Linked DNA regions of Homo sapiens: region 2 is linked to region 1. The links come from fine-mapping of genetic effects on gene expression. A gene starts in region 1. The other region holds a variant in brackets. All regions are shown on one strand. Distances are from middle to middle. Region 1 holds the start of MYO1G (myosin IG). Region 2 overlaps CCM2 (CCM2 scaffold protein).

The links. PIP is the estimated chance that this variant, and not a neighbour inherited with it, causes the effect.
Region 2: its variant is the best candidate, but not a certain one, in a credible set for the expression of MYO1G in whole blood (TOPMed, PIP 0.57).

Annotation. Positions count from the first base shown.
Region 1 is chr7:44,976,253-44,981,631 of GRCh38, forward strand. MYO1G (myosin IG) reads right to left here and starts at 2,763. Exons shown (of 22, transcript NM_033054.3): 1 at 2,615-2,763; 2 at 611-819; 3 at 312-405. The coding sequence starts at 2,709. RefSeq lists a silencer at 2,706-2,795 and enhancers at 2,996-3,065, 3,096-3,145, 4,373-4,502.
Region 2 is chr7:45,044,602-45,049,980 of GRCh38, forward strand. All of the region lies in intron 2 of CCM2 (CCM2 scaffold protein), which reads left to right. Among named protein-coding and RNA genes, the nearest start is that of NACAD, 42 kb to the right of the region's middle. The variant T/C (reference allele first, on the strand shown) is at 2,038.

The sequences.
Region 1 (5,379 bases):
TGAGCCATTTCAAGCATCTCTGGGCCCTGCTGCACTTCTCCTCATCCTACCTGTGGCTGCTGCCTCCTCCCAGCTGGTAGGCCCAGTACCTTGGCTAGGTCTCACCCACCCAAGGAGAGGTCCTTGGCATGGGTCACCCTGTCTCACCTCCGGGTGTGTTGGCATTATCTGGAAACTTCCCAAGTTCCCACTGAACTTGACCTGAGCTAGACTCCAGTTGCCGTCTCTCACTCCCCAGAGCCAGCCCTTCCTGCCACACTGAGGTCCCTGGCCTGCCATGCTGAGGCCCAGAGCTGCCCATTGCCACTCACCTCTCCACCTCAGCCCTCTGGCTTGGATTGGTGACAGCAGCGATGTACTGCATGATGTGCTTACTGGCTTCTGTCTTCCCTGCCCCACTCTCCCCTGCCGGAAAGACCAGAGTTGAGAGAATCAGCCAGGTTCGCTCTCTTAGCCCAGCTCCCTGTGCCCACTCACACCCCCAAGACTGGCAAGATGGGGTCCTAGGGCCCCCATCAGGACACAGGGCACAGGAGATGCTCTAATGGCCCTCCCAAATGTTCACAAATGAAGATGCCGAGGGTGGGGGCCCGGCGGCAGGGACAGGTACCTGAGATGACGATGCAGGTGTCCCTGGACCGGTGCTTCATTGCCTTGTAGGCGGCGTTGGCCACAGCATAGAGATGGGGTGGCCGCTCATAGAGCTCACGGCCCTGGTACCTGGCGATGGCCTCAGGCCCATACAGGGGCAGCTCCTGGTAGGGGTTCACGGACACCAGCACCTCACCGATGTAGGTGTAGATGCGGCCCTTCTCGAACCTGGACACAGCAGGGGTAGGCCTCAGCACTCACAGGCTTACAGGCACCCACAGGCCTTTCGCCAGAGCCCATATCAGGGCCTGGCCCCAGTAGGCCAGCGCTCCCACCCTGACGGGCTGAGAGTGGAGAAGGAAGAAGGGGGCAGGTGTTGACCTTGCGTCTCCCTGGTGCCATCCTGGGTGAGCTGAGCCACTCAGAGACTGTCTCCATTGCGGCATAGAGTTTGGGGTCCACAGTGGTCTCCCCAGGGATCCCAAGGTCACTGGAAACATGACCACTCATTTTGCAAAGGAAACAGACTTGCCCAAGACTGCACTGGGTGCCGTGAGTCAGGGCTGGCTCCTGGGGTGAACCCCGCAGGGCAGATGGGGAGATGGGGTTGAGAAGTGACTGGGCTGGGAGGGGAAGGAGGGGCCTCCTCGGCTGTTTCCTGTCTCAAGGCCTGGGCGGGAACCCAGAGACAAAAGGGGACCCCACCCAGCCCCACCCAGATGACAGGGAGGGAGTTGATGTCGTTGTCTTTACACCCCCGACCCCCCAGCCTGTGGCCAGTGGCTGCTGCCTCTCCCCTGGCACAGCCTCAGACTTCTTGACCCTTTCCTTCACAAACCTGGTCCCCAGTGGGGGTGGATGTCTGCCCTTCTCTTGACCTTTCTGCCCCTGGGAGGAGGACTGGCAGGCCTGCCCCTCAGACCCATCTCCCCTTGGTGTGTGGTACCCACCCTTCCCTGGATGGCCCTGTCTCCCGGCAGCCTGTCCTGGGTGGGCCTGTCCTGAGGTTCCTCTTTCTCCACCACCTCTGACATGGGTTTTCCTGGGCCTAGCTCCCATCCTCCTACAAGCTGGGGATGAGGGCACAAGTCACCCACGTCTCCAGGGCTCAGTGTTCTCCTCATCAAAATAGAGAGGACAATGTTTCATAAGCTCATTTTATAAGAATGAGGTAGAACAATGTGCACAAAGTGCTTAGCTCACGTCCTGGCTAGCCCTCCTCTTTGAGCCAGGCTCGTGGTCTCTTGCCTTCGGTGCTTAGTGGGGATCCTGGTCCCCAAGCTCTCCCCAGGGAGCTTCCGGAGTACACAGCGAGTGGCCTTCTGCCCCTCCCTGGGAGTCCTGGCAGGAAGCCCAGCTGCCTGTATGGCCACCCTACTGTGCCATGCCCCTACCTCCCGGGCTTCTCCCTGCCCTCCACCTGCCCTCCTTGATGGTAAATTGGGCTCCAATATCACTTCTACCAACTGTGTCCTGTGATACTCCATGTACCCCAGGAGAATGTCACCTCAACTTGGTGGGAATGTTTGGACCCTAGGGTGGAGCCTGACTGCTTCATCTCAGTGTCCCCAGGGCTCAGGCCAGGCCCCATGGATGAGATGCATCGAGGGAGCATCAACAACTGGCTGGGAAGTGGCTGGAGGGAGGTGCCCCTGGTCCCTCCTGGAAAGATAGTGCCTGGTATGTATCTGTCCAAGAAGTGTCATGCCCTGGCCCCGTCGGGCAGGAAAGAAGGGGCAGAAGATGCCTGGACTGTGTGGGAGGCAGGGGTGGGTTGAGGTGGTGGGCAGCTCCGGTGCTGACTTGCCAGCCCTGACAGGGACAGTTGCCTCCTTGTCTGTTCCTGTCCCCTGGGGCCGTGCTTTGAGGCACTCATTTCAGCCCCATCTGGTCTGGGTGGGTGTGTGCCACTGCCCCCTCCCTTGGACAGCAGCGTGCCTTCCTCTTTCCCTCAGGTCTCTGCGAGGACGCAAGGTGGGAGACCCTGGAGGAGGGGAGCCACTGCCTCCTGCCCTGGGCCTACCTGAGCTGCAGGTTCCTCATGAAGTCCTCCATGGTCACTTGGTCCAAAAGCACAAAGTCAGGTTTGCCATACTCAGGGCCTTCCTCGTCCTCCATCCTGCCGGCTGGAAACACCTTGCCTCACCTTCCTGTGCCTGCTGGAAGGACAGTGAAGGAGAGGGGGAGGGAAGGCTAGGGGAGGCCCCACCGCCCCCGCCCTGCCCCACCAGCCTCCTCCAGTGCTGGTGTAAAGTAGGAAGTGGGTTCTAGTCCTGGGAGGGGCTGCCCTCCGCACTTGCCACTCCTTCCCCCTCGAGGTGCTCTAAACCCTGCTTCCTGTCCCTGCGCCCCACAAGGAGGCTGTGCCTAACGGTCTGACCCGTTTGCACGCCAGGGGCGAGGGGCCGGATGCTGGGTCCTCCCCGCTTTGGAGGGTTCTTCGCTGGCCTCCTTCGGAAGCTCCCCTCCACCCACAAGCAGGAGACAAGACTCCGTGGGTTGGCTTCCAACCCTGGCAGCACGTTAGAGTCACTTGTGGGACTTTAAAGAAAGATTTTTTGACGTGATCTTGGTTACCTGGCTGTGTGTGTCTCTCAAGTCAGAACTGAACACTAGATGCAATATACTGTATGTACATTGTACATTAATACAAAAATGAAAAAGGATCCTAATGCCCAGGCCTTTGGGGTGGGGGCAACAGCCTTCTTTGCAGTGTGAAGGCCACACTGGGGTGTAGACGAGCAAAGCTTCTTGTGTGACCTGCCAAGGGCCAGTGGTCCTAGCACTGCAATTCCCCACCCCAGCCACGGGGGAGGGACAGAGGACCCCAGAGCATCCTCTGCATGGGGCTGGCCTTCAGTGGGACCCCTGTGCCCCTAACTGTCCTCTGCCTTGTACTTGTGTCCAGCCGATCCCCCATAAACTGCAGTGAGGACCAGGAACATGCCTGGAGCCCTGTGGCCTCATCTCAGAGCTGCTGTCCCTGCACTTTGAAGATGAGGCAGCGCATTTGGGGAGCGGCTGCATTTAGGGAGTGGCCAAAATCTCCAGACACTGCATTCCTGACACTTAGTGCTCCTGGAAGAAGTGGGAGGGGTGCAGTTCTCTTAGCTTCCAGGCAGACTGGAAAAAGTTCTTTTTCATCCCAGGACAGACTGGGGCAGGTCACACCCATCCTCTAGGAACACTGGGGCGATTCTCTCATCAAAGGTCAAATGGATGCAGTTCTCTCTCATCCTACAAATAGACTGGTGACATTTCTCTTTCACCCCTTCCCTCATACAGGGAGGTCAAAGGGCAGACTCCAGAATTCCCAAACTTCAGTCATTCATGTGCTGCCTTTGAGATTTGTTGTACTCATAAGCACTAGTTTAACTATTGTCTTTCAGTCATCCCATTTTTTAAACTTTGAAGTAATGGATAGGCAAGTTAAGTTTATTTTTTTCTCTCGAATACCTTAAAGCAAATGCATTCCTGATAAAACTGAAAGTACTTATTCAAGTACCTAATAAAACTGAGTCACGCACCACTGCAATAAGGGGCCACTGGCCTGAAAAATCCCCAAATTTGTAAGTGGGCAGCCTCTGGCTCCACCCTGGGCCAGACCTGGGGCTCCTCTTGGGCAAATTCAAAGTCAGTCCTTCGGAACTCTGACAAGTGTGGCCTCCTCCCCACCCCCAGGCTCTTGGGCTGGTGCTTTTGAAGGGTTTCCCAAACCTACACTCAAGTCTGGGAATTCTCACCCAGACTCTTGCCAGCTCATCTGTCTTTTCAAGTTTCACTTCCCCAACCCCCAGGGAGTCAAGCCAACCAGTGGAACCAAGATGGCTGTATTCCAGTAAAACGTTAAGGACACCGAAATCTGAACTTCGCAAACTTTTCATCTGTCACGTAATCATACTATTTTGGGTATTTCCCCCACCACTAACCACTTAAAAATGTCAAGACCACTCTTAGCTCAGAGATTTGGCTGGTGGGAGGAGTTTGCCCGCCCTTGCTTTAGCTGCTGCTGGTTGCTGGGACCCTGGGCGTCCTTCCTTGGTAGTTTGCACAAATTTGCCATGCATTGCCTCATTTGATTCTCATGACACATGTAGGAGTTACTGTTATTTTCATTTTACATATATTAAAACCGAGGCTGAGATGACATCACTACAAAGGAAGTTCCCTCCTGGGTCAACAGACCTCTGGGCCCTTATAGCACTGAATTCAGTGGGTCCTACTCAAATCCCAGGGAAAAGTCGGTCAGTCAGAGTCACGGCCTGGTCCTCAGAAGGGAGGACAAATGGTAGCTCTATCTGCAGCTTCCCCAGGGCATGCTCCTTACAGGGTATGACTGGTAGAACAGGTAGATGAACAAAGGCAGAGGCTCCTAATGGAAGGACAGCAAGGAGGGGCCACCACCAACTCAAGCCTGGCAGGGGCTGAGGAAACCATCCTGGCCCCAGTGAGTTTCCCTCTCATTATCTCATCTGGATCAGTTTCACAATGCCTGCCTCCACCAGGGCTCCTACGGCTGCACCTGCAGGTCCCTTGCCCTCACCCTCCTCGTTGCAACCTTCAAATCCCAGGCTTGCTCTGTTGGTGCTGACCTTGCAGCAAATCCCCAGCCCCAGAAAAATGTCCCCTTTCAGGGGAGTTGCTTTTTCGGCTCTACACAACTGTACCATAACTTAGTATTTCTATTAAAAATTTTTTTTTTTTACCTCATCTGAGGTGATACCATTGGGCTAATTGTAGGGGAATGGCTCTACCTAGGGGTATACTCTCATAGGCCACAGGCCACAC
Region 2 (5,379 bases), 68 kb after region 1:
AGCCCAATTTGACTGGGCTGTCTTTTTATGTTCAGTAGAATTAGACTATATCACAGAACCACCAAACATTTTTTACTAGTTTATGGAGAGAATTACCATTTTCTAGAGGTAGGGAAGAGACATTAGTGACCTCATATGGCAAATTACTATGGAGAATATAATTATTTCCAAATTTTCCTAGAACCATAATACTTTGTGATTGTTACAGTGATTCTTATTTTCCTTCCTTCCTTCCTTAGACCTCTTAAGTATACCCTATAATATGATTTTTAATTCAAAAGTTATTAAAATTTTGTTTTGAAGATTTCATAACTAAACTCTAACCGATCCCCAAGATGACTAGAAAAGCCTCTTGGTTTTACAAAACTAGTTTGGATAGTGCTGTTCTGAAGGTATAATAGAAATTGGTGAAATTATTTGTGGCCTGTCTTTGTGTTCTTGCTGTATCAATATTTGTATCTTATCAGATACCTTTACATATGTCTAGCCTTTTCTTTCTATCTGACATTAACTTATTCAACAAATATATGTTGAACACTTGCTCCACTATCGTTATAGCTGCTAGGTGCAGCTAGAAGTGACAGCTGATAGAGCAATTTCTTTAGAGTAGTTTGTGCAGTTTCAGTTGAAAAATCAGCGCCTGGTTTCCATTCAGGCCCTGCTATTGTGCATGGGAACTTGAATCACCTTGGAACTTTTGTATTGATTTCCATAAATGGGAAGTTAGATGAATTGCTTAATAATACCATATGTTTGCAGAAATAAAAGAAAAATCACCGCTTAAAAAAATGTAATCCATCATATTAACAAGCTAAAGAAGAAAAATCACATAATTATATCAATCAGTGGCAGAAAGTTTATTTGACAAAATTCAGCACCCATTCTTGATTAAAAACTCAGACAAATGGGGCTGGGTGCGGTGGCTCACGCCTGTAATCCCAGCACTTTGGGAGGCCGAGGCAGGTGGATCACAAGGTCAGGAGATCAAGACCATCCTGGCTAACATGGTGAAACACTGTCTCTACTAAAAATACAAAAAATTAGCCGGACGTGGTGGCGGGTGCCTGTAGTCCCAGCTACTCGGGAGGCTGAGGCAGGAGAACAGCATGAACCCGGGAGGCGGAGCTTGCAGTGAGCCCAGATCATGCCGCTGCACTCCAGCCTGGGTGACAGAGTGAGACTTTGCCTCAAAAAAACAAAACAAAACAAAACAAACTCAGACAAACAAGATATGTTTTTGAACAATGAATATGTGGATATCAAAATTAAATCAATACCATTCACAATCACTTAAAAAATGAAACACGGGTATAAATCTTACAAAACATGAATAAGATTTGTATGCTGAAAACTATAGAACACTGATGAAAGAAATCAAAGATCTGAATAAGTGGAGAGACACACTGAATTCATGGATTGGAAGACTCAACCTAATTAGTATGTTACTTGTCCCTAAGTTGATATAAATGGACCAACTCCTTGAAAAGCACAAACTACTACTACAAGTCATCCAATATGAAATAATTTGAATAGCTTGTAACTATTAAAAGTGAATTCTACAATTCCTATCAAAATTTCAGCAAGAATTTTTTGTAGATATAAACAAGACTATTCTTAAAGTGCAGTGGCACGATCTTAAATTTCAAGCTATTCTTGAAATTTAAATGGAGAGGCAAAATAAGTAGAATAGCTAATAATAATTTTGAAAAAGAAGAAAATGAGAAGAGTCAGCCTGTCTGATTTCAAGATAGATCATACTGCTATCACAATCAAGACTGTGGTATCTGCAGAGGGACTGACACAGAGATCAGGGGAGCAAAATGAACTAGAAACAGATCCACACATATATGCCCAGCTGATTCTTGACAAAGGTTCATAAGCAATTCAGTGGAGAAGGGATAGGATAGCCTTTTAACAAATGGTGCTGGAGCAGTTGGACATTTGTAGGCAAAAATTGAACCTTGCCCTGAATTTCACAACTTAAACACAAAAATTAACTCAAAATGGATCATAGGCTTAAATATAAAATACAACTTC[T/C]AGGATAAAACATAGAAAATCTTCAGGATGCAGGGCTACGCAGAGTTCTGAGACTTGATACCTAAAGCATAATTCATAAAAGAAAAAACTGATAAACTGGACTTCATCAAAATTTAAAACTCTTGCTCTATAAAAGACAATGAAAACATATGCTACAGACTGAGAGGAGATATTTTTAAACCACATATCTGACAGAGGGTTGGTATCTACAGTATATAAAGAACTCTCAAAACTCAACAGTAAAACAAACAATCCGATTAAGACATAAGCAAAAGACAGGAGGAGATACTTCAATGAAGAGGATATACAGATGGCAGTAAGCACATGAAAATATGCTCAGCATCATTAGCCATCAGGGAAATGCACATTAAAACCATAATGAGCTGCCAATACACACCTAACAGAATGTTTAAAAAAAGTAGAACACAAGATGCTGGAGAAGATGTGGAGGAACTGGACCCCTCATTCATTGCTGGTAGGGATGTAAAATGGTACCGCCACTCTAGAAAGCAGTCTGGCAGTTTCTTCAAATCTCCACGTGCAACTACGAACAACTTGGCAATTGCACTCCTAGGCATTTATCCCAGGGAAATGAAAATTTATGTTCACATGAAAACCTGCCTACTAATATTCAAAACAGTTGTATTCATAGTAGCCCAAAACTGGAAACAACTCCATGTCCTTTGGTGGATAAATGGTTAAACAAAATGAGGTCCATCCATGCCACAGAAGACTATTCAATAATACAAAGGGCTGGGCATGGTGGCACCTGCCTGTAGTCCCACCTACTGGGGAGGCTGAGGCTGGAGGATTGCTTGAGCCCAGGAAGTCCAGGCTGCAGTGAGCCATGATCATGCCACTGTGCTCCATCCTGGATGACAGTGAGACCCTGTCTTAAAGCAACAACAAAGGAACAAACTACACAGCAACCTGGATGGGCCTCCAGAGAATTATGTTGAGTGAAAAAAGCCGTTCCTAAAGGTTTCACACTGTATGTTCCTTTCTGTAACATCTTTGAAATGACACAGTTGCTGAGGTGGAGAACAGATTAGGGTTTGCTAGGGGTGGAGAGAAGTAGGTGTGCCTATAAAGGGCAACAGGAGGGGTCCTCACAGTGATGGGTGCTCTGGCTGTGTTTACATCCATGTCCTGGTGTGATGTGCTGTAGTTCTGCAAGATGTCACTGCTGGGGGCAATAGGGTAAAGGGAGCGATGGATCTCCCTGTATCATTTCTTATAATAAGAGAATTTACAATTACCTTAAAATAAAAGTTTAATTATAAAGAAATTGCAATTTGACTACTACTTGGCATGTCAGTGAGAGAATGTAGATAATAAAATGATGTAAAAACTAAGTAATGATTAAGAAAAATTATCTAAGTTGTAAGAAAAGAGAGGGAAAGTGGGAATGGTGATACAATTGGAAGTCAATATCTTAAATTGATAAGCAATAGGAATATAAGCCCATTATTTAGAAAAATGGCTCTAGATCCTAGAAGAATCAGAAGACTTCAGTGTGGCTGCCTCTTGGAAGTGGTTTGTGGATGGGGTTGTCCCAGTTAGTAAAGGAGATTGTTGTTGTTTTGTTTTACAATTTTTTGAACTTTATTTGCCTTTTTAAACTGTATACATTTCATAAAATAAAAACAATCACAATAATAAAATCCACCAGTGATAGGAGACATTTAATCCCACATACTCCAGTGTGGTGTTTATGGGAAGTATTTTGTTTTTAGAATGAACATTAATGAACAAGTTGAGAGGGATTTAATAGTAGCTTCTGTTTTGGAATGCTTACTGTGTGCAGCAACACTATTTAACATTTTAAATATATTTTTCTCATTTAATCTTCACAAAACCTTCATAAAGTAGAAACATTCCTCTGGGAGGCCGAGGCAGGCGGATCACGAGGTCAAGAGATCTAGACTATCCTGGCCAACATGGTGAAACCCCATCTCTACTAAAAATACAAAGATTAGCTGGATGTGGTGGTGTGCACCTGTAGTCCCAGGTGCTTGGGAGGCTGAGGCAGGAGATTCGCTTGAACCCAGGAGGTGAAGGTTGCAGTGAGCCGAGATTGTGCCACTGCACTCCAGGCTGGTGACAGAGCAAGACTGTCTAAAAAAAAAAAAAAATTCTTTCTGTAGTTTCCATCACAAGCTGACATTTTCCCCAGTAGGATTTGGTGCAGTGCAAGGCTCACGTGGGCTCACCTAGTGACTATGAATGGACTCATAGCAGGCTTGCTGTGTGGTTTTAATAATGGGACAGGGTAATTAATCACATTTGTGATAACAAACCCAAGAAGCTCTTCTCAGATTTGTTATTATTTTTTGAGACAGGGTCTCACTCTGTCACCCAGGCTGGAATGTAGTGACACAGTCATGACTCACTGCAGCTTCAACTTCCCTGGGCTCAGGTGATCCTCTCACCTCAGCTTCCTGAGTAGCTGGGACCACATGTTGCACCATCACACCTGGCTAATTTTTGTATTTTTTTGTGGTGATGGGGTCTTGCCATGTTGCCCAGGCTGGTCTCGAACTCCTGTGCTCAAGCGATCCTCCTGCCTCGGCTTCTCAAAGTGATAGATTACAAGTGTGAGCCACCATGTCCGGCCTATTATTTATTTTTATCTAATTGAATATGTAATTTATGTACATGGTTCAAAATTCAAATGATAACAGAGATTCTTGGTGAAAAGAAATCATGTGCACCCTCCGTGGGAGGAATTGCTGACACCAGCTTCTTGTGTCTTTACAGTCTGTCCATATATGAGCTTACACATGCATTTGTTTCCCAAATGATTACACGGTATACACTGTTTGCACCTTGCTTTTTACACTGAACAGTGTATCTTGATTTATCGCCGAGTGTTCACATTAGCACACATAAAACTGCCTCGTCCATTTTAATGGTTGCATGATATTCCATTAGATAGCTGTGTCATATTCTATTTAACCAGTGATTTATTAATACATATTTAATTTATTTTCAACTGTTATGTATGTTTTACTGTACCTATAGGATAAATTACAAAAGTGGAGTTTCTAGATCTAAGGCTAGGTTACTTTTTAATTTGACAGACATTTCCAAATTGCTCTTCATAAAGGGTTGAAGTCAGTGCATACGTGAGGACTCTGTGAGTGTGCAGGCGGCCCTGTACCTCTGCAGGTTCTTCACCTGAGTCAAGCAACTGTGGGTTGAAAGTATTCAAAAAAAGAACAATAAAAAAACCACTACAACAATAAAAAATAATACAAATTTAAAAAATACAGTGTAACAACTATTTACATAACATTTACATTGTATTAGGTATAAGTAATCTAGAGATAATTTGAAGTA